3 linked regions of the Homo sapiens genome follow. The protein of the gene in region 1 purifies or fractionates together with the protein of each later gene. This does not show direct contact. Each region holds a gene or a part of one and is shown in the gene's direction. Other genes may lie near its edges.

The links.
Region 2: the proteins of GNAZ (region 1) and DAAM1 purify together in Homo sapiens (affinity purification with mass spectrometry; 3 studies listed by BioGRID and IntAct, with this or other methods). This does not show direct contact.
Region 3: the proteins of GNAZ (region 1) and DCAF10 purify together in Homo sapiens (affinity purification with mass spectrometry; 3 studies listed by BioGRID and IntAct, with this or other methods). This does not show direct contact.

What each region holds. Positions count from the first base shown.
Region 1 is NC_000022.11:23,065,667-23,073,518, forward strand, and holds the start of GNAZ (guanine nucleotide-binding protein G(z) subunit alpha), read left to right. Parts: upstream 1-4,852; 5' UTR 4,853-4,904; intron 4,905-7,852. UniProt on the Homo sapiens protein: Guanine nucleotide-binding proteins (G proteins) are involved as modulators or transducers in various transmembrane signaling systems.
Region 2 is NC_000014.9:59,191,655-59,198,679, forward strand, and holds part of DAAM1 (disheveled-associated activator of morphogenesis 1), read left to right. Parts: intron 1-7,025. UniProt on the Homo sapiens protein: Binds to disheveled (Dvl) and Rho, and mediates Wnt-induced Dvl-Rho complex formation. May play a role as a scaffolding protein to recruit Rho-GDP and Rho-GEF, thereby enhancing Rho-GTP formation. Can direct nucleation and elongation of new actin filaments.
Region 3 is NC_000009.12:37,796,366-37,803,809, forward strand, and holds the start of DCAF10 (DDB1- and CUL4-associated factor 10), read left to right. Parts: upstream 1-4,431; 5' UTR 4,432-4,501; coding exon 4,502-5,040; intron 5,041-7,444. UniProt on the Homo sapiens protein: May function as a substrate receptor for CUL4-DDB1 E3 ubiquitin-protein ligase complex.

The sequences.
Region 1 (7,852 bases):
GGCAGGGGGTTGTGGATGAAAACGTGTTCCACGTGCTGTGGATTTCTTCATCCATGTAAGGGTCTGTCCCTGTGTGCCCAGAACATCTGGGCCTAGGGTGGCAAGAGTCTCCTGAATTCCACCAACACTGAGTCCCAGCTACAAGCAAGGGCCTGCTGGAGGCTGAGGAGTAGGATACAAGACAAACGCTGCACAGCCCAAGCCCTGCAGATCCCATCAGTGCAGAAACCCCCCAACCCTACCACCCCTCCCGAGGCCTGATCCTCTCTCTCTCGCAGCTCCCTGCTTTGCCCATACCACACACCTGGCCTCCTGCTCCCGCTCTGCTTCCCCTCAGGTTCTGCCCACGGTCTCCCTACCCACTCCTGGCTATAGATTCAACTCAGTGGTGACCTGGACGGCCCTCTTCCAGCTCACAGCAGGGAGGCGACAATTTGACCTTCTGTTAATTTTGCTGGCAGATGGAAGGACAAAGTTCTGGGATGGGGACACTTGAGCAAAGACCTGGGGGTAAGGAAGTTGTTAATTTTCAAATCAGGGCTAGATTGTAGCCTCGTCTCACCTATCTGAGCTTCCCAGGAAATCCCTGGGACAGGTGTCATTGCTGAGTCAGGATGGGCACAAGTTAGGGGAGGAATATAGAAGGAGTTGAGGTCAGAAAAGTCAACATTCAAGGTGATCACCTCCATTACCCACCTCTCCTTGGTGAGGAAACTGAGGCCCAGAGAGGCAACTTGAATACCTAAGGTCACACAGCAGATGGTGGCAAAGCCAGGCGGGACCCTCAGCCCCTTGGGTTTTGTTTCTCAGGCATTTGTCTTGTACTTCTGCTCCTAGAAATGCTTAGCACAGGGACCGGGGTTCATTTTGAGACAGAGGGAGAAGATTAAAAATAAAACGCGTGCCGGGTGTGCCTTTCTGCTCGTTCACTTTGCTTCTTTTCAGCTAAAAGAAGAGTCTCGGGCCTGGCTATTTATAACTAACCCAGATCTGCGATGGCTTGCTCAAGTGGGGGTGGGGCACACAGACCCCAGGGAAACAATCGGGGAAATCCACCCAACTGGGCGGCAGCCTGAGCGTCCGCTGGGGGTGGGGGGTGGTTGCAGAAGAGGTAGGACAGGTGGGGCACAGAGAATCAGCCAGATGGGGTGGCACCAGAGCAGGCCAGGCTCTGGGCCATCCATGGTTTAGAGACAAGCAACATATGCCCACCCCACCCCCGGGAAGTGGGAAAACTAGTGGAATAGTCAGCTGGGGACAGGTCACTACAGAACAGGTTGACATGTGTGTAGACCAGGAATTCCAGGGTCCTAGGGGCTCTGGAGGTGCACAAAGGGAGGCCCCGGGGAAGCTGGTTCTCATGGATGTGGAGGAGAGCCCAGAACAGCAGGGCTCAAATGTATGTGTTTGTGGGGAGTCCCCGATCTGGCCTGGCTGATATGTAGGGGCTAGGATGGGTTCAGTGGTTGATGAGCCAAAGAGATCCAATGGGATTGAGGGGTCACGGATGTCCATGGTGTGGAGCCCCAGTGGTGGAGTCTGGGTCATTTTCTTTGTGGTGGGGCAGGGCGGGTGCTGACACCATGTTGAGGGGCCACTCCTCAGCCAGCTGTGCCTGCTGGGTTGGGGAGGTGCTGAGTGGGCTCAGTCACCACCATGGCCCCCTTCCTCTGGCTACAGCAAAGCCCCAGCTGTTGTCTCCCAGCCAATGAGGGCTCAGGACAGAGCACCAGCACCCAGGTTCTGGTCGCAGCCACACCCTTTCCTGTTAGGGGACTGCACATCCACACATGGCATCTGGGGCCCACCTTGCCGCAGGTGACCCACCTGTCCAGCTTTAGCCTTGCATGGCCCTGTGCCCTGAACTCCTGGCCCACTGGGCCTGCCTTTGCTCCAAGGGGTGCTTCTCTGTCCTCAGCTTTCTCGGCTTCCAGGTAGCTGGGAGCATGGTTAACAGCTTCTTCCTTTACCACATGCTCTCTTCCCGTGCCTCTGGTACCCTCCATTCTCTGGTTCCTGACCACCTCCCCAACTGCTCCTCCATCTTTTTGGTAAGCACCATCTCTTCCTCCAGTGGTCCCCACCCTCTCCCCTTCTCTCATCTCCCTGGGTCCTGATAATGCCCCGCCACTGTCTCCTAACATGCTCTTGGTCTCCCTGCCATCTCACAGCCACAGCAGACCGTACACTGAACTCAGCCTCACAGACTGACTTCTGTGCTCACTCCCACTTCCTCTGGACTGACTAACTGATGTTTTTGTTATTTTATTATGTCCAGTAGGACAACTCACATTGTCTGTGGGACCACGCCTACTGTAAACAGGCAATTAAAAACTTCTCCTCCTCCTTCTCAAATTTAAAAGACTAATGTTAAAACTCTCGAGCAGTTCTTAGGCCAACGTCCCTGATCCTACTGCCCCAAGCTGGCATCTGTGCATGGGCAACGACCCTGGCCCCAGCCACACTGGTCTTCTCTGGGTTCTTCCTGGCCTCGTGCTCCTTCATGTCCTGCACCGTCCCCGCCTTGGAACTCACTTCCCTCCCACCCTATGTCACTGGCCACCTCCACGCCTGCTATGGCCTCATTCCAAGCATCTCTTCCTTTGGGAAGCTGGCCCAATGCCCAATGCTCCCCCACTCCACATGCCCCCAGAGCCCCAGTGGGTCTCCTCAGATAGCCTCACATGACTGTAAGGCCCAATCGTTGTTTGCTTTCTGCCCCTGCCCTACAGGCAGAGGGTCTGCCAGAAAAGGGCCGGTCTGAATCCTAGAACTGTGCCTACAACTATACCCTGGTGGAGGAGGCTATCTGTAAGTGACTGCTGCATGAATACAATATTGGTTTGATGCCAGGTGAGATGTCCCTCTCTTACTTTGAGGTCAAGTCAGGGAGGTGTCAGCCAGCCCCAGTGGACCCCTCCGCAGGCTAGCCTCTGCTCTGGACCACTGGAAAGGGCCATCTCACTGTTGCATGTGGGCTTACCTCTGCAAACAATTCAACTCTGACCCCCAGACTCTGCAGTGGAAACAGCCTCTGGCTATCCCAAGACATGCTAATATGCATTTCCTATAAACATTAACCCTCAGAGCCACCCTCTGACCACAGTCTGTTACATTCCCTTTTGACAGAAGAGGAAACAGAGGCTCAGCCAGGTAGCACAGCTGCCGGTCTCTGTGTGGTCCTCCTGGCAAGAGGTCCAGCCTGACACAGCCTGGTGGTGTGGAAGGCAAGCACAAAGGGTAGCTAGCCCCTCAGCCATTGGCTGAATTCCCTTGGTCCTCACTGGACACCTCCAGTGAGCACTAAGTTCGCCTCCATGATGCCCATAACAAATATACGTCCTGTTCCTGACAGTTGAGGCAGCACCCTCACAGGTGGCCCATGACCCTGCAGGTACGTAACGCAATGGTCTCCATCTCACAGAAGAGGAAACATTCCTAGGGAGGTTATGGGATGATGCTGAGATGCCACAGTGTCCAGCTGGCAAAGCCAGGCACATGCCCCTGCCCCTCCACCACAGAGCTATGATGGAGAGACCGCTCCATGGACCTCTGCCATGGTCAGGTCCAGGGCTGCTGCTCAAAGAATGGCATGATCCACACCTTACAAAGGTGTGAGGTGATAAGGAACGCGTTAGCTGGGAAGGCATTTGCACTTTGTCAGGGATGCTCTAGGATACACAAAGCTTCAGATTTACAAAGATGGAGAAGAGAGACAGGAGCATTCATGTCTTGGCCCTCTGGCTTGAGAGTCTTTTAAGCATGGAACTGAGGGACTCCTGGCCCTGAGGTCCACAGATAGGCTTTGAAATTGAAAACAGAATTTTGCAGCCTGGGTTCAGCTGCGTTTTGCTGAGGGTCTGATGCTTTCCACCAGCTTCCCAAAAGCGCCAATCAGTGGCCTTAACTGAACTGGCTCTCTCACGCTTGTCTGGGCTGGGGGCCAGCTCCTCGGTCCTTCTCCCTTCCTTCCCTCCCAAGGCCACCCTTCCGTGTGCCAGGATTGCCAGGGACGCCAAAGAGCCCCTAGACACTGGGCGGTGGCGGCGGGGGGCGGCGGCAGAGATGACTAATGCTCCCTCCCATCGCTGCACAAACCTCACCGGTGTAAATCGTTAGGGTTTGCATAGGCCTTTCACACGTTCTGAAGGATTGGTGAGACAATCCAGGAAAGCAGGTGCCACTAGCCCCACTTTGCAAACAGAAAGGCTGAGAGAGGTCAGTCGGTTGCCCAAGGACGTAGAGCTCACAAGAGGCCGAACTGGGTTTGAACCCGAGTGGAGAGAAGGCGAGCCGGGACTGGCTGCAGTAAAGAGGGCCAGGACCATGGCTGGGCTCAGGCTTGGTTTCCCGGGCTGCCAGAGGTGGCCCCTGGGGCTCGGCTACCAGGCCTCAGCGCAGCGGAGTCGGTGGAACGCCGGCGCGGGGAGCTCTTGCGGGACTGCGGCGCGCGCGGAGCTGCGACCCCGCCCCTGTCCGTCCCCATTGGGCTACTGGCCCGTCCGTCAGCTGCCTGTGCCCAATGGACAGAGGGCCGGCGCTCGTGGCGGGGCGGAGGTGCCCGGCGCGTGGTGCCCGGCGGGCGCGCGGCACCCCCCCGCCCGCGGTTGGCCTGGCAACGGGCTGCGCTCGCGGCTCCGCCCCCTGCCGGCGGCGGCGCGGCGCGGGGCGGGCGGACCCGCGGACTGGCGGCGGGCGGCGGGCGGCGGGCGGCGCGGGAGGGCGGGCGGAGGGAACCAGGCCGGCCGGAGCGTGTGCGCCGCCCGCGGTCCGGTCACGTCCCCGCGTGGGCGCCGCTGCCCGCGTCGTACGGAACGAGGGCGCCGCGGCCCCGTGCTCGCCGCCCCGCCCCGCCCCGCCCTGCCCGGAGCAGCTCGGCAGATGCTCTGTGCTGCGGCCCGGAGGTGAGTGAGCCGACCCGCGGCCGGCCGCGCGCCGCTGAGCCTCAGGGGTCGGGGGCACGGCCGGGGCATCCACCTTGCCCCCACTTGGGACTCTTCCCAGGCCTTTGTGCCCCGGATCCGCCAGGACGCAGCGTCAGGGATGCCCCTCAGGGGTGGGGGACACCAAGGGCGGGGACGCCTGCGAGGTGGGCAGGGGGCGGCCTCTGGTCGGGCAGGTGCTGGGGGAGGGATGCGCCGCCAAGCCGATGACCCCGCGGGAGGGGGCGGTTGAGGACCCGGGAGGGTGGACAGAGGGCGCCGGGGATGCCGCGCGGGGCCGCCGGGCGCCCCCAAGCAGCGGCTGATGCGGAGCCCGGGCGGGCCAGGCGAGCTGCGGGAGCGGCGCTGAGGCGGGTCTCCCTAGGGGGAGGATCAGGGAGGGGCGGCCGGAGCCGATGCAGGGCCTTGCCTGAAACCGAGGAGAGGGCCCCAGAGGCCTGGGCCCGAGGACCTGGGCCCGCAGACGGACAGCTAGCAGTTCTCGGTCACTGCTCTTGCAGCGAGCAGGTTCCTCACAGGCATTTAGAGGAAGAGATGAGTATCGACCTGCTGCGATTGTAATACGTTCCCGGCTCAATATTTTTTCCCTTAAAAGGCGGTGGGGGTGTTTGGGGGAGGGGAGTGAGGGCCTCAGGGCTGGCGCTCCGTATCCTGCGGGCGATCCGAGGGGGCTCTGCCTTTAGGGCGGTGCTGAGCCTTCCTGGGTGATGATGGCAGGATTCGGCCTAGGCCGAGAATGGGGGCTCCTGTTAACTGAGACAAGAGGATGATGCCAAGCGAGACCAGCGTTCCGCGTAGTCCGTGTTGGGGTGGAGGGACCCGCCTGGTAGAGAGGTCTGTCTTGCTTGGGGAGACAGCTGAGCCCCTGACCGGCTCCTTTCTGCCCAAGTGATTTCCCTGCCCTGGGGATTGAGCTCTCTGGAGAAGGCTCCTTGGCCAAATTCAATTAAGCAAATATTTATTGAGTGGTCACTCCCCCAGAGCTTGACGCTGGGGTGCACCGGGTGGGAGTGGACTGGGCCTGCCCTCCCAGGACTGATTGACCACCGCATAGGGGAAAACGTCTCTACTCGACCAACCCCGCTTGAGTGCAGGTGCAGGGGCCTCGGGAGGGACCTCAGAGTGGTGTCCTGGGCTGGGGGGTCAGGTGAGCTCGTGGGCAACATGACATTTGAACTGGAGCTTGAAGGACATGGGCACAGCTAAGCTGGGCATTGTGGGCAGAGAGGAGAGAATAGACCGAGGCACTTGGGCAGTTAGGTCTGATGGGAGCACTTAGCATGCCTGGGGAGTAGGAGGAGGTATGGCGGGAAAGGCCGGTGGGGGCTGCACGGGGCTGAGGGAGCTGGGAAGTGGAATGACCCCACTGCTGGTTAACTGTGGCTATGGTGGAGACCACGGCTTCCTCATCTGTAAAAGCGAAGCAGTTCCATGACCCCATGAGCTGGGGTGGGCCTGGAGAAGAGCTAGCTTTAAAGACTGGGGAAGGCTCCTTGCAGTCTGAGACTGTGCTTCCAGGCACTTCTCCCTCGGGCACAGCCAGGGCACTGGGTAACCACCCAGGCAACCCCCTTGTTAGGATTGAGTTGCCTGTTTCGGGGATGATGCTTAGCTAGTGACTCTGTGCCTCTGGGATGTGGATGTTTGAGAGCAGTAATCGTGGCAGCCTGGGAGCATCCATCTACGGGGTGCAGTGGGGGTGTGGATGGCCTGGCGGTGCTTGGATAAAATATGCGCCTTGAGCAAGCCTCATTCTCTAGGAATGAGGAGATGCTGGCATCTGGTTTAAAAGTCTTCCTGTGTGTTCCTCTAACTGACGTTGATTTTCTGAGACAGGAGGTGAATAAGACATAATTTCTCCCCCTCGGAAATTGGTGTCACTTTCCCCCCTAAGTCAGCTCCCTCATTTCTGGGGATGTTTTTGCTCTCCCTCTGAAGGGGCTGTTTGTTACTCATCTTTGTAGTGTGCCTACCCTCCCCACCCAACACACACTTGGCTTTGGCCAAGGCCCAGGTTGATGCAGCGAGAACAGGGCCTGCCCTCGTGGGGTGTGCAGTCTGTGCTGAGCAGGGTGAGCTGCTGTGCTCTGTGCCTGTCGCCTGGACTGTTGCAGGGACCTGGCATGTGACTGTGGGTTTGGGACACAGGGAATGGATTCTTCCCTCTGTCCCCAGCCTCTCAGTCCTTTTGTTTTCTAGAATCTCAGGAGGAACCTCAGAGACCTGGAGGCCCCACCAGAGTGGCCAGAACCTGGTGCAGGAGTATGGGTGGGGTCTCAGTCTGGCCCTCAGGAGCTTCTAGAACAATTCCAGGAATTTGCAGGTAACTGGATTGACTTCACAAGGGCTGCCCAGGGCCCCCGCAGAGAGGCCAGTGGGACAGGAATGCTGAATATAGCAATTCAGGAATGCTGAATTTAGTCATCTTGTGTGTGAACACATGTGTGCGGCTTCCTCCCCTGGAGGCAAGGAAGGCAGCCCTGTGCTGTCTGTCCCACGCTAGCCTCAGAATACTTAAGACGGTGTGTGGTGGCAAAGGCACTCTCACTGCTGCTGACCATGGCAGGTGCACGGGCACACTGGAGGAGGCAGGTCAGCATGCTGCTCTCCCGAACCCTCCAGCAAGGAAACCTGGGGTAGCCAAGCCTCTGAGCACCTGTGAGCACTGTGCTTGGCTGGAAGGAGCACAAAGCGAAATGAACAGAGGCGTCAGTGCAGATGCCAAGGGTCAGCCCCAGGCAGAATCCCAGAGCAGAGGCTATGCTGCGGCCTGGGCAGAATGAAGAGGGACGTGGGAGCACCCAGACTGTTGTGGCTCCGGGGTGGTGAGGTGAGCATTCCAGTCTAGGTGGCAGAAGACCTGGAGTCAGGTCCTGGTCCCACCATCCTAGGTCCAGCCCCTTTTTCTC
Region 2 (7,025 bases), on another chromosome or scaffold:
ATCGACTGTTTCTTTGTAGTTACAATTTCTTATTACCCCTGAACCAGGCATTTCTAGATTTCTCTCAGTTGCACTATCCTTGGCCCAGATAATCTTCCCAGGAGGTGTGTGACACGTGAATAGGGAGAGACACCAAGAGAAAGATACCCAGAAGCCTTTGCCAGGCCACCAGTGTCTCCCAGAAGAGCTGGGAGACAATAGTCCTCTCACCTGAGGCAGAGCCGTTCCGTAAACAGGATCAGTTGTTTCAGGCTGGTTGATGTGAAAGAAATGTGAAAGAACATTTGCCCAATATTTGTAACATGTTACCATCCAGTAGTCTGATTCTGTGGGTTTTCAGGAGCATAAATTAGTAAATTAGTGAGGAGGTGTGATAATGAAGAGGGTGTGGTGGGTCACATCCTTGGGTGGTGCTTACAGGAGCTCCATGAATAGGTGCTAAGGAATTTGAATCCTGGCTTTCTTGTTTTGTGGACATGTTCTGCTTGTTAAGGGGTGTGTGTGTGTGTGTGTGTGTGTGTGTGTGTGTGTGTGTGTGTGGTTTTGAGCTACTTTGTTTAAAAGGCTGCTTTTAGTGTTGGCACTATGGTCCTTAAAACAAATAAGGTGTTTACAAGCAAAAGTTCTGATTGAAAGTGTTTCATTTTGTAAATATTTGGGAGATGGCATAAAGAGAAACTTGAGGTCTTGTGTGAAAACACTTTAAAGTTGCAGCTGTTGGACCAGAGGAAACATGCTTTTCCAACAAAGCTTGGTATCCTTGAGTGCCCTAGGTGTTTGGTTCAGGAAATAATCACAGAGCTTGTAACTGCTGTGGGGCCCTCCCTGGCTTCAAGCCGTGCTCTGGTATTTCCAGTGTTAAGTCTATCCTTATATTGCCGGAAACAAAGCAAGGTGTCCAACTTGGGTTAGCAAACTTGTTTTCTCTCTAGAGGGGACACCAGTCAAAATAGAAGTTCTATATTCTGTTGTGATTTTTTCCTCTTTGGATGAGGAATATGGTGACTTATTTTGGTATTACAATTTCTAACTTGGTAATAGAGGTAATATTCTAAGTGAATACCAATCTTAAGTACGCACAGCATCTGTTGTAGTGGTTTCAAGACCTCAAAGTTTAGGCCGGGCGCGGTGGCTCAAGCCTGTAATCCCAGCACTTTGGGAGGCCAAGTCGGGAGGATCATGAGGTCAGGACATCGAGACCATCCTGGCTAACACGGGGAAACCCCGTCTCTACTAAAAATACAAAAAATTAGCCGGGTGTGGTGGCGGGTGCCTGTAGTCCCAGTTACTCAGGAGGCTGAGGCAGGAGAATGTCCTGAACCAGGGAGGCGGAGCTTGCAGTGAACGGAGATTGCGCCACTGAACTCCAGCCTGGACTACAGAGCGAGACTCCGTCTCAAAACAACAACAACAACAACAACAACAAAACCCTCAAAGTTTAGAGGAAATTGATTGCACAGGTACTATTTAAGAAACTGGTACTGAGAGCATTTTCTCTATTTCTGTATGTGGCTTGGAGGTAATGTCTGGTTGACAGATCAGGCTAGGGTGGATGATACCCCTCTTGAAGATGCATTCACTTAGCAAGTGTACTGTCTTTTATGTAGATTATATTATTTAGAGTGGCTGAGGCTGCTGATAGAGACCAGCGTTGAAGTGTGGATCTGAAGTTCACCCCCTTTCTCTGAGCTGTCACCTTGTTTGTAGCCCCACTGAAACAGGGACAGACGAACATGAGATTCAAGTTGATTTTAGTGACCTATATTTCATCCAGCAGATTTTTTTTTTCAGAAATAAAAGGTTACCTTTTAATTTTTTAGTATCCTTTCCACTGTTCTAGGAGCAGGGGGAGAACAGAGCATTTCAGGGAGAGTTTGCATTCATAGTCCACAAGTTTGCATACATAGAACATGTGTCTAAAAATGAACTGAATGTTAAGTCCTAGAAGCACAGCAACAAGTGTGCAGAGCCTTCCCCATCACTCCCAATTAATCTGGGGTTACCAAATACACCCTCAGCTTTGGTGAGCTTGTTTTCCTCATTGATGTTTAAGCGTTCCTGGTTTTTACTCTGTCTGTGACTTTCTGCAGTAATGGCTGTCCACGTCTGGAATGTGCTTCCCTCTGAGTGTCTGGATTATCTTGTGCTTTCATATCTAGCTCAGGTGCCACAGCTTCCACGAAGCCTTCCCTGCCCTTCCTCCTTAAAGCACTTAGCTTGACCACACAACACTTACAGCTAATTTGATACCGATATTGTATGTGAGGTGCCTACCTCATGCCAAGCCCTTTCTAATACTTTCCATGGGCTACGTCATTGACTGCACATAATTATACAAGATAGATACTTTTATTGCCATGTTCTAGATGAGGAAACTGAGGCACAGAGAAGTTAAAGAACTTGCCTAGCTTAGGCCACACAGCCTGTAAGTGGCAGACCAGGTTAGGGACTCAAGCAGTCTAGTTCTTTATACATCCTGATGTTGCCTGGTTTCTGACTTTCCGGCACGTTATTCTTTTCTCTGCAACTCGAGTTGGGGTAATCACAGCTTCCTTTGAGTCTCTTAATTCTCAGACAGTGCTGGGTCAGTAAGTCCTGGATTAATTGAGAGTAAAATGACTTCTTCATGTCACAGGTTCTTACAGCCTGATTTTCTGGAACAGAAAATGTTGTGTGAGATTAAAAATGTTGTTTTTGAGTATTTAAATGATAAAACTTTGGAGCTCTCCTTTGCTGTATGAACGATAGACAAATTATTTGAAAAAGGAAATGCTCTTATATTACAACTCTAAATCTGTTTGGAGCCTGTCCAGCATTAGACCTTATTTGTTAAGTGAGGTAACTTTTCACTGGGTTGAATCCCTCATCTGATAAAAGATCTTCTCACCCTGAACAGGGCCACAGAAGCCTGTGTTGAGAGTTAAGAGGGCCCATAATTTCTCAGCCTCCCTCTTCCCTGTAGTCTTTTAACATACATTGTGAAAGCTCTTTTGAAAAGAAAATAATGAACACTTGAGCAGTAGTCAAACATGTAATCTAATATTGGATAGCCTTAGATATTAAAATAAACTTTTTCCCCCCACCTCAGAAGAGATACTTTTATTTATTTTTACAGTGGAGCAAATTTGGTGCCAAATAAACAATTTCTATTCTTTTAAACCATAGCCACAGTTGTGAATTAAATGGGGAAAACCAGGGAAGCAAGTTCAATTTCCAATGCAGTTGGTGCGATTTCGTGACTTACAATAGATCTTTTCCTTTTGGCTTAAAACTAGATATTGTGCCACTTAGACAATATTTAATGAAGACAATTGACTAAAACACAAGGAAATAATAGGAAAGCTATGCCTTAACGGCATATTGCCAGGAAGGGAAACATGAAAACAAAAGGCTTGTTAGCCATTAGGCTACACAATCATAAAATTTTTTGAACAGACATTGATTTCAGAAGGTTTTTCTTTTTTCTTAATCATTCATCTTGTTATACTTTTTTTTTTTTTTTTTTTTTTGAGACAATCTTGCTCTGTCGCCCAGGCTGGAGTGCAGTGGTGCGATCTCAGCTCACTGCAAGCTCCGCCTCCCAGGTTCACGCCATTCTCCTGCCTCAGCCTCCTGAGTAGCTGGGACTACAGGTGTCCACCACCACGCCCAGCTAATTTTTTGTATTTTTAGTAGAGATGGGGTTTCACCGTGTTAGCCAGGATGGTCTCAATCTCCTGATCTCGTGATCCGCCTGCCTCGGCCTCCCAAAGAGCTGGGATTACAGGCGTGAGCCACCGCGCCTGGCCTCATCTTGTTATACTTTTTAAGTATGTCATTCACCTTTAGTAATAACCTGGGTTTATTCTGTTCTATAAATTACACCAGGATTGGGGTTTTAAGGCTACCTGTATTTCTGCTGGCACACAATTAAGGTCACCTATTAAACTGGTCTTTGTCATTTTTATGTCTAAAAAAAATACCTGCAGTGTGATTGGAAAATGTTGCCTATCTGATAGACTTCCTGAATTTAGGCTTACAAGAGTAGATAGCCCAGATCCTAGCTTTGGGCATTGTTGGGGTAATACAGATGCCCATCTTTTATTTTCTGAGATAGGTTCTTATATTCTGGCTTGTTGGCTAGCTCAGTTTGTTAGTGACATACAAACCAGGTCAAGGGCATGGGTTAGCTTTGCCTTGTTTTGGAGCCACAAACTGTACCTGTAATTCTAGTCAGATTTTTTCTGTATCTTTTTTTTTTTTAAATTAATCATGCTTTTGGGGACTAGACTGTACATTGTGGACATATCAGTGCACAGCTATCACTACTAAGGGCAAAAAAAGGTGCCATATTTTAAAGCGAACTGGTAGGAAAACCCTGTAAGTGAGAGGCAAGACTGCCAGCAGCTTGCTAAGGAACCGTATGCTTCTGACAGTTGTCCTCCTGTGAAGATTAGGTCAGGACTAGGGGCAGCTTCTTGAAAGTTTGCCAAAGCCAATAGCCTTGATCTTTTTCCTTTCTTGGCAGAATGACAGATGCCATCAATGTGTGTTTGGGTGCTACTTCTGGACTTACTCTTAGATAAAGTTCTGGATATTTGTGCCCAAGAAGAAGAGTAAAGGATGGTGGTCAACATTATTCACCAGATGAGATAGATTGTTCATATGTGCCTAAGCTTAAATTTGTATTAGTTTCATAGAGATTTGGTAAAACCAAGCAGGGAAATGTTTAGACACAAGTTAGAACCCGCAGTTCTGTAACAAGAGGTTTAGACCAGGGACCCTTCTAAATCCCCAGAATGTACTACAAAATTAATTGTAAGAAATGGGCCGGGTGCGGTGGCTCACGCCTGTAATCCCAGCACTTTGGGAGGACGAGGCGGGCATATCACAAGGTCAGGAAGTCGAGACCATTCTGGCTAACACGGTGAAACCCCATCTCTACTAAAATTACAAAAAATTAGCCGGGCGTGGTGGCGGGCGCCTGTAGTCCCAGCTACTCCGGAGGCTGAGGCAGGAGAATGGCGTGAACCCGGGAGGCGGAGCTTGCAGTGAGCTGAGATCCTGCCACTGCACTCCAGCCTGGGTGACAGAGCGAGATTCTGTCTCAAAAAACAAAACAAAACAAAACAAAAAAACAAAACCCACAAAAAAACTAATTGTAAGAAATTAAAGGAAATGAAACAGCTTAAACTGAAGAAACTTGCTGCATTCTCTATTCTTGAAAGTTGGTGAAATTGTGAATATGGAAAATGTCATACATTTCTGTTCAAGGCAACCCATTTGGAATTCTTTTTTCTTTTTTGAGACGGAGTCTCGCTCTGTCGCCCAGGCTGGAGTGCAGTGGCGCGATCTCGGCTCACTGCAAGCTCCGCCTTCCAGGTTCCCGCCATTCTCCTGCCTCGGCCTCCCGGGTAGCTGGGACTACAGGCGCCTGCCACCACGCCTGGCTAGTTTTTTGTATTTTTAGTAGAGACGGGGTTTCACCGTGTTAGCCTGGATGGTCTCGATCTCCTGACCTCGTGATCCGCCCGACTCAGCCTCCCAAAGTGCTGGGATTACAGGCGTGAGCCACCGCGGGAATTATTTTTTCAAATGCAACTACAGTTAACTCATTATTAGTGGCTGCTATTTGATTTAGGCTGATGGTGGAAAAGAAACAACAATACCATTTCTGTTTGGTTTCCCCATCCTGTTTGTGTGGCAGTCATTTCTGCGTTAGAGGTACTTTGTTCAGCACTGTTGGTAATGTGAACTAAAAGTTGGAGGACATGCAATAAATAAATGCTGGAATTGAAGCCAATGGCTGAGACTGACCGCACCATGTTCTCAGAAGGTTAAATGAACAGGCCTGCTATTATATTTTCGTCTTTTAAAAATCAAGAATAGAGATTAAACTGGAAATACTCTGACCCATTTAGGGCTTGAGATTCTGTGAGTAGGTAACACTTCCAACTATGGAAGTTCTAGGAACTGTGGCAGGAAACTGCCTTGCCTATGATATTTTCTGCTAAGGGCTGGTTAAAATGTTTTTAAAAATGTATATAGTTTTATATTTAACCCAATTTCTTTTCAGGCTGTGTCTGAAGTTACGTTTCTTCCATACCTTACCTTTTCTTTCTATACTCCCTGCATTGCAGTTTGACAGTTCTGCTCCTTTGGCTTCTCTGTGGGCAGGGTGAGATGGCTGTCTCCAGTCTGCCAAGTTCCATATCTTGGGAGCCCCATCACTGACCTTACAGAAAAGCATGTCTTCCCCCCTTAACCCTCTAGCTTAGAATGAGAGCTGTGAGGCAGCTGGGAGAGGAAGGCTTACATTGTAATTCTGTCAAGCTCAGATTGTTTTTCTGACGAACAAGTTGAGGGAAGTAGGTAGAGGGGAGGACAGAGAGAGTTGCTGGGTTTCACTTATCTTATCATTTGTTTCCCTCTGGATGGCCTTTGTTTATGCTGTCTCTTCAGGCCAGGAATTCCTCCAACAGAAATCATGCGTACACTCGGGGACATTCACATTGGGGCTTCCTTCTTGTGTTTCCATTTGCTGATTTGCCTTTCTTTTCTTTTCTTTTCTTTCTTTTTTTTTTTTTTTTGAGACGTAGTCTTGCACTGTTGCCCAGGCTGGAGTACAGTGGTGCAATCTTGGCTCACTGCAACCTCCGCCTCCTGTGTTCAAACAATTCTCCTGCCTCAGCCTCCCAAGTAGCTGGGATTACAGGTACCCGCCACCATGCCCAGCTAATTTTTCTATTTTTAGTAGAGACAGGGTTTCAACATATTGGTCAGGCTGGTCTCAAACTCCTGACCTTGTGATCCGCCTGAACTCCTGACCTCATGATCCGCCTGCCTCGGCTTCCCAAAGTGCTAGGATTACAGGCATGAGCCACCGTGCCTGGCCCCATTTGCTGATTTGCCTTTCTTCTCTACAGCCTGATCCGGAAGGAGGGGTGGAAATACTTAACCTGCTTTTAATGCTTCTGTTAGGGGATAAAGAGATTTTACAACAGTGATGTGGGGCAAACATGTGGGTGACTTTTCTAATGAGGAAG
Region 3 (7,444 bases), on another chromosome or scaffold:
TTCTATATACTTTGTTAATTTCTTCCACTATTCTGGCATTGGAGTCTTTTGCCTCGCCTTAATAGATTGCAACATTCCATTTCCATTTTTCCTCTGGAGACTTCCCACTCTGTGCTCCTCCCACTTTGGGGGGGCTGCTCTTCAGGCCTGCTGCACAGCTGTCTTTTCTTTAATTGTGGTAAAATATGCATAACAAAATTTATCATCTTAACAATTTTTACATGTACATTCAGTACATACACAGTGTTAAGTGTATTCATACTGTTGTGCAGCCATCACCACCATCCATCTCCAGAACTCTTCTCATCTTGCAAAACTGAAATTCTGTACCCATGAAACAATACCTCCCCATCCCCACCTCACCCTAGTGCCTGGCATCCACCATTCTTCTTTCTGTCTCTGTGAATTTGACGACTCTAGGTACTGCATAGAAGTGGAAACATACAGTATATATATCCTTTCGTGACTGGCTGATTTCACTTGGCATAATATTCTCAAGGTTCATACACGTTGTAGCATGTGTCATATTTCCCTCCCTTTTTGTACACCTGTCTTTTATACCTTCCTGCACTGCTCTCCTTCTTAGATCCACTTAGATCACTTTTATTCCACTTTCTTGCTTTACCTGTCCATTTTGCTAGAGGTCCATAACCTCCGGTATCTTCTTAAATAAAGAGAATATGAGGCTGGGCACAGTGGCTCACGCCTGTAAAACAGAGTGACTCTGTCTTTTCTCAAAGATCTACTGATGGCCACACAAGGCATCTCCTTGCTGTGTTAGGTATATCATCCTATGTCCTATTTCTTGTGGCATCATTGAGCCCACAGCAGGCCTCATTTTGAACTTCCACATGTGGCATTTTTTGAAAAATCTGTAGCTGTGGCAATACTGAGCTTGCATTTCCTCGTAGTTGCCAAGTTATGGCTGCCCCCAGTAAAGGGAAATTTAGAGACAATGCTTGCAAAGCTCCTACCAATAAGCCTGGTGAAGCACTTACTCAACAAATGGAAGTTGTTCTTTTTCATGGGATTACAGTTATTCAAAGGTTCAGAATTTAAAAGTGTTCAGAAGAAAAGGGGAGCCAGACCTGATATTTGTAGATTGGCTTAGATTTGGAGGTTTTTAAAAAATACTATTGAGTTGCCATCCTTGGCAAGGAGCTTGTATGTACAGCGATAGCTATAGATCCAAGCCAATCTACAAATGTGTGTGTAGCACCTGGTTACGAGCATGGAACCTGGAGCTAGATTGCCTGGATTTGAATCCTGGCTTTACCACTCTCAGGCTGACTTTTCTTTTTTGTGTCTGTGTTTTCTCATCTCTAAAATGGGGATAATAATCGTACCAACATACCTTGAGTTTTGAGTTAATATATATGAACCAGCTTAGCATAATATTAGGCACATACTAAACATTATATGAATGTTTGCTTATTATTTTTCAATAAGCTTATATGATAGGATCACTTAACTCAGCATAATATTAGGCATATACTAAACATTATATGAACATTTGCTTTTTATTTTTCAATAAGCTTATATGATAGGATCACTTTACTCAGCATAATATTAGGCATACACTAAACATTATATGAATGTTTGCTTTTTATTTTTCAATAAGCTTATATGATAGGATCACTTTACTCCTTGAGTACATTGTTTTCTTTGGGCTACAGAAGGCTCCCTGGTTGAAAGGACACATTTGTTTTCTTGGTTGTCATTCCAATTCTTTTTTTTTTTTTTTTTTTTTTTTTTTTTTTTTGAGACGGAGTCTCGCTCTGTCGCCCAGGCCGGACTGCGGACTGCAGTGGCGCAATCTCGGCTCACTGCAAGCTCCGCTTCCCGGGTTCACGCCATTCTCCTGCCTCAGCCTCCAGAGTAGCTGGGACTACAGGCGCCCGCCACCGCGCCCGGCTAATTTTTTGTATTTTTAGTAGAGACGGGGTTTCACCTTGTTAGCCAGGATGGTCTCGATCTCCTGACCTCATGATCCACCCGCCTCGGCCTCCCAAAGTGCCAATTCTTTTTTTTAATTTTTGAGATGGGGTCTCACTCTGTTGCTCAGGCTGAAGTGCAACAGGCTGAAGTGCAGGGTGATCACAGCTCACTGTAACCTTGAACTCCTGGGCTCAAGGGATCCTCCTGGCTCAGCCTTCCGAGCAGCTAGGACTACAAGCATGCATCACCACACCGGAATGATTTTGTTATTTTTCATAGAGAGACAGAGTTTCATGATGTTGCCCAGGCTGGTCTCAAACTCCTTACCCTCAAAAGATCTTCCTGCTGCTTGAGCTTGGGAGGTTGAGGCTGCAGTGAGCCATGACTGTATTACTGTACTCCATCCTGGTCAACAGAGTGAGACCCTGAAAAAAAAAAAAAAGATCCTCCTACCTTGGCCTCCCAAAGCACTGAGATTACAGGTGTGAGCCACTGTGTCTGGCCCTTGATTCTTTTTGTCAGTGCATAAGTCCTGGTTCAGGTATTGTGAAATCAAGTGATCATCCCACAGGAAACTGAAACTGAAATTGAGCAGCCATCATTCTGGTACCTCAAGGGACTCTGCAGGAAGACCCTAGGGGGACTCTGCCAAGAACAAGTCTAACCTGTTCTGAGTCTGTCTCTTTTTATGTATCTGTATCTCCTCCTACCATCAACTTTCTTTCTCACCGTCTATCCCAAGTCTGTTCTCTCATGGCTGCTGCTTTCTCATGATTTCTCTTACTCCTTTGGTTTGCTCAGGACTCCAGCGGCCTCACTCTGCCTTATGACTTTTCAATCCCAACCATCATGGCCAACTGCCTCACTTCTGATTTCCCAATTCAAATTCCCAAGAGCATGAGTCTGTATGGGCAAAGACTTTTGGTCTGGCAGCCTCATGGACCAGTGGCTAATCTATAGCCTGGTTACTCAAATAGTTGTCCTACCCCGGCTAGTAGGCAAGGAAAGCTAAGTAACAGCTACAAAATTCGACAGCCTAGGACTTCTAGGATGGGTTCAGTAGAATATACGTGCTGGCATACACATGAAGAGTGTGAATGCCAGGCAAGTAGGCTGCTACAGTAGATTGGACCCATCCAGGGGGTCTCCAGAGAAGTAGAACCAATAGGAGATATAGATATAAGAGAACATTTAATATGGGAATTGGTTCATATCATTGTAGAGGAGTCCCATGATCTGCAGTCTGCAAGCTGGAGAACCAGGAAATCTGGTGGTGTAATTCAGTCTGAGTCTGAAGGTGTGAGAATCAGAGGAGCTAATGGTATAACTCCCGGTCCAAGACTGAAGGCCTGAAAACTGACGATGAGTCCCCAAGTCCAAAGCCCGCAGAACCGAGTTTTGATGTCTAAGGGCAGGAGATGGATGTACCAACTTAAGAGAAAGTTAAATCACCCTTCTGCCTTTTTGTTCCTTTTCAGTCTTTAATGAATAGGATGATGCCTGTCCACAATGGTGAGGGCAGATCTTCTATTGATTCAAATGCTAATCTGTCCTGGAAACACCCTCACAGGCACACACAGAAATAATGGTTTTCCAGGCTATCTGGGCATCTGTTAGCCCAGTCAAGTTGACCCAGAAAAGTAACTATCACCTATTTGCCATCTTTCATTTAAGCCCAGATACACAGACTGGCTATCTCAGCCATTCCTTGGGTAGCACATCCAAACCTGTTTCCTCTCAGTCTCTCCTTTGCCTTGTGACAAATAGGTTTTGGAAGAAGCTGCCTGTGGTCACCCTGAACTTGTTGTGCCTTTAAGAGTTGGGCATGCTGGCCAGGCGCGGTGGCTCATGCCTGTAATCCCAGCACTTCGGGAGGCCGAGGCGGGTGGATCACGAGGTTCAAGACCAGCCAGGCCAAGATGGTGAAACCCTATCTCTACTAAAAAATACAAAAAATTAGCCGGGCGTGGTGGTGGGCGCCTGTAATCCCAGCTGCTCGGGAGGCTGGGGCAGAGAATTGCTTGAACCCGGGAGACGGAGGTTGCAGTGAGCCGAGATCGCGCCACTGCACTCCAGCCTGGGCGACAGCGCGAGACTCCATCTCGGAAAAAAAAAAAAAAAAAAAGAGTGGCATGTCACCTATTGTGTGTGGCCTGCACGTAATGCACTAATTCTTAATCCCTCGCTGATCCCAGTGTAAAGTGGAGACACCAGTACATACTCAGCCTCACAGGACTGACTGGTCAGGCCACTCATCCCCAGGCACGCGGCCACCGGTCACTGACAACTACAGACCGACTCTGCCACCCAGATCAGGTGCCCAGATGCTCAGTCGCTCACACAGGTAACTACTCGCTCCCTACCTCCGTTCCCGGGACTGCGGCGCCCCAAACCCGGCGGTGTCTCAGCTTTCCCGGTCCCCGGCGGACGGTGGCCGAGGGGCGGCGCGGGTTTCCAGCCGGTGGGGTTAGGCCGCTGCACGCCGGAAGTGGCAGCTGAACAGGGGCACTGAGGTGTCGGCCGGCGGGGCAGTGGCCCGGAGCGGGGGGCGGGGGCGTTGATCATGTTTCCCTTTGGGCCCCATAGCCCTGGAGGGGACGGATCGGCCGGAGCCGGGGCTGAGGAGCCGACGCCCCACGAGGGGCAGGCAGCAGCCACCGGGCCGCCCTCGCCACTACATCCCGGGGCTGATGCGACCCATCCCCCTCCACCCGCCCGAAGCCCTCGCCGCCCCGGCGCCCCATCGCTGTCCCCGGCCCCGCGCTCCGGAGAGCTAGGGCTGCCTGGAGCTCCGGAGTCCTCAACTGCCTCCGCCCCGGGAGAGCCGTCACCTCCCTCCCCTCCGTGCCGGCGGCCCGGGCCAGACTGCAGGGCCAAGAGCCGGGGCCGACACGGCCTCGGCGCGGGCCTGGGCGGCCCTGGCGCTAGGCTGTTCGGGTGGCTGAAAGAGCGCAGCCTGGGCCGCGGGCTGTTCGTGGACCCGGCGCGGGACAATTTTCGCACCATGACTAGCCTCTACGGTTCCATCCACCCCGCGGACTCGGTGTACCTCAGCACCCGCACCCACGGCGCCGTCTTCAACCTCGAGTACTCGCCCGACGGGTAAGCGCGGCCCCTCGGAGGGCGGGCGCCCGCCTCCGCCCGGCTCTGCTGCCAGCGGACGGCCGTCCTGGGCTCGCTCCCCGCGCCCGGGCCGAGGTTAGCGAGGCCGTTTGGGGCCGCTGGCCTTCGTGCCTCCTGGCACTTTCTGAAGCGCATTCTCGCCCTTGGAATCCCCAGCCCAGCTTTTTGAGGCAGGCAGGCGGGGCCCCACTTGCTCGCCTTCAGGACTTGGGCTCTGTGAAGGAGAAATGCCCGAAGCTACACAGCGGACCTGTCAGAGCCAGCCCACAACTAGGGCTTTCTGGTACACAGTAGGTGCTCAGTAAATACATTTTGAATAAATGCCCGCTTTCTCCCCATCATCCTAGGCTCGCGTTTTCCTACCTAAACCTGTGTCGGGGTAGGAAAGCTGTAGATTCCTTGCACTCTGTACCTGAACTTGCCATGATGGGGCAAGTGCGTTCCTTTGCTCAAGGAAGATACAGTACTAAGACACTGTAGAGACGTGGCTCTCATGATTTGGGTCATTTGTGAAGTCCCCAGGCTAGACTACAGCCTTTTTCTTGGCTGATTAAATATTTATTGTATGGCTTTGCTTTAAAGGGAACTTTCCAAAATCGTATCTATTTAAAACTTTGTCTTGTCAGTACACAAGTCCGCCATCAAAAGAAAAAATGTGCACAGTTCCACCATGAGGTGACATAGTTAATGTAATTCTTACCCCACCAAGCCTCTCGGTTGCTAGTTGTTTACTCAGTTGTTCATTCATTCATTCTCTCATTCGGCGTATATTTGTTGAGCACTTGCTATGTTCCAAATGCAGGAGTAACCATGCTGAGCAAAACCAGCTAATGGCACTGTTTTCATTGAGCCTGGGACTTAATGGTTCAACTAGATAGTAGATAGCCTTACTAAATAATGCATAAAATATATTTGTTAATTGAGATAAAGTCTTGAAGGAATCTGTTATGGACACTGTGTTCACGGATTCCCTGAGGAAGTGGCACCTAAATGAAAATAAAAATGAGTACGAAATAAATTAGTCAAGATAGGGTTGGGAAAGGGATAGAAGTATTTCAGATGGAGATGATTGGTATGTCAAAGGTCGTAGAAGGGCAGCATATCATGTTACAGGAGGTGAAAAAAAATAGGTTTACAAAGCAAAAAATTTTACTGAAGAAAGACCTGAAGTTGCTAAGGAAGGAGCAAAGGAATAGAAACAGGAGTTACTGTGAGCAAGTAGACTCTATTCCATTTCAATGATGGAAGCGCTTCCTAATCACACGTGGTGCTGGGGTCTCTGGGGTCTCAACAGCAATTGGTTGGAGCATGTAGCAGTGGATGCACACCTGAATAAGGTGGAAAACTGGTGAGAGGAGAAACTATTTTGCTGAAACTTATTCATGGAACCTCGCAGCCTCCTTCCTTCAGCCAAGCCCTATTCCTAAAGTTTCCCTCAAAACACGAACAGTCTGTCCTCAAATATTCAGTTTCTCTCTTCATATCCCGGCCCCTCTCCTCCCAACCTCCTACCGATACTTTCAGGAATTCAGAAGCAGCTATTTCTACTTTTTGGATGTGGGATTTTAGGTGGGAGTATAATGAGAAGAACAGATTTTAGAGCTGTTAGAATAAGGGATATATTGCTTAGTTTTTGTTTGAATCTAGAATGTATTTTCTCATAACAGTTTTGTAAAAGGTGGTTAGGAACTCTTGCACTTAATTCCATAATTTTAAATTACACAATTAACATATATGCTCATTGTGTAAAACCTAGGCAATAAATGAGCAAAAAATACCTAAACATTGCTTATGATCCCAGAGATTAAATGGATATCTAAGGAAATTTTTAATTTGTGTATGTTTATTTTAATATAAACATGGAATCACTGTTTTGTAGCTTGCTTTTTTTCTTACAGTAAATTGTGAACTGCTTATGTTAATAAATATATTTCTACAACATTAACATTTTTCATTAGTTTAAATAAAACCTCTTTGAACAAATATTTTATATTTATATCTTTAGGATAAATCCCTAGAATGAGTTATTGTTATGAAGATTTTTATATCTATTGTTAAATTGCCCTCTGCAAAGATCATACTAATTCTCATTACTATATTCTGATTCCTACATTCTAGACACATGCCTGTCTCCTCATACCCTTGGCAACACTGCATACTGCCATTCTTTTTCATGTTTATCAGGGTGATGAGTGAAAATACTTCAGTGTTTTAATTTTTCAGTCTTCTTACTTCATCTAGTATGCCCTACATTTGTGTAGGACTTAAAGTAATTTTACAGATAGATGACATATCCGTGTTAAATGAGGTAATTTCTCATATCTTTCAGTTAAATATGAGTTAAATCAGCTTACCAGGTAGCATAACCACTGTCACCCTCAAG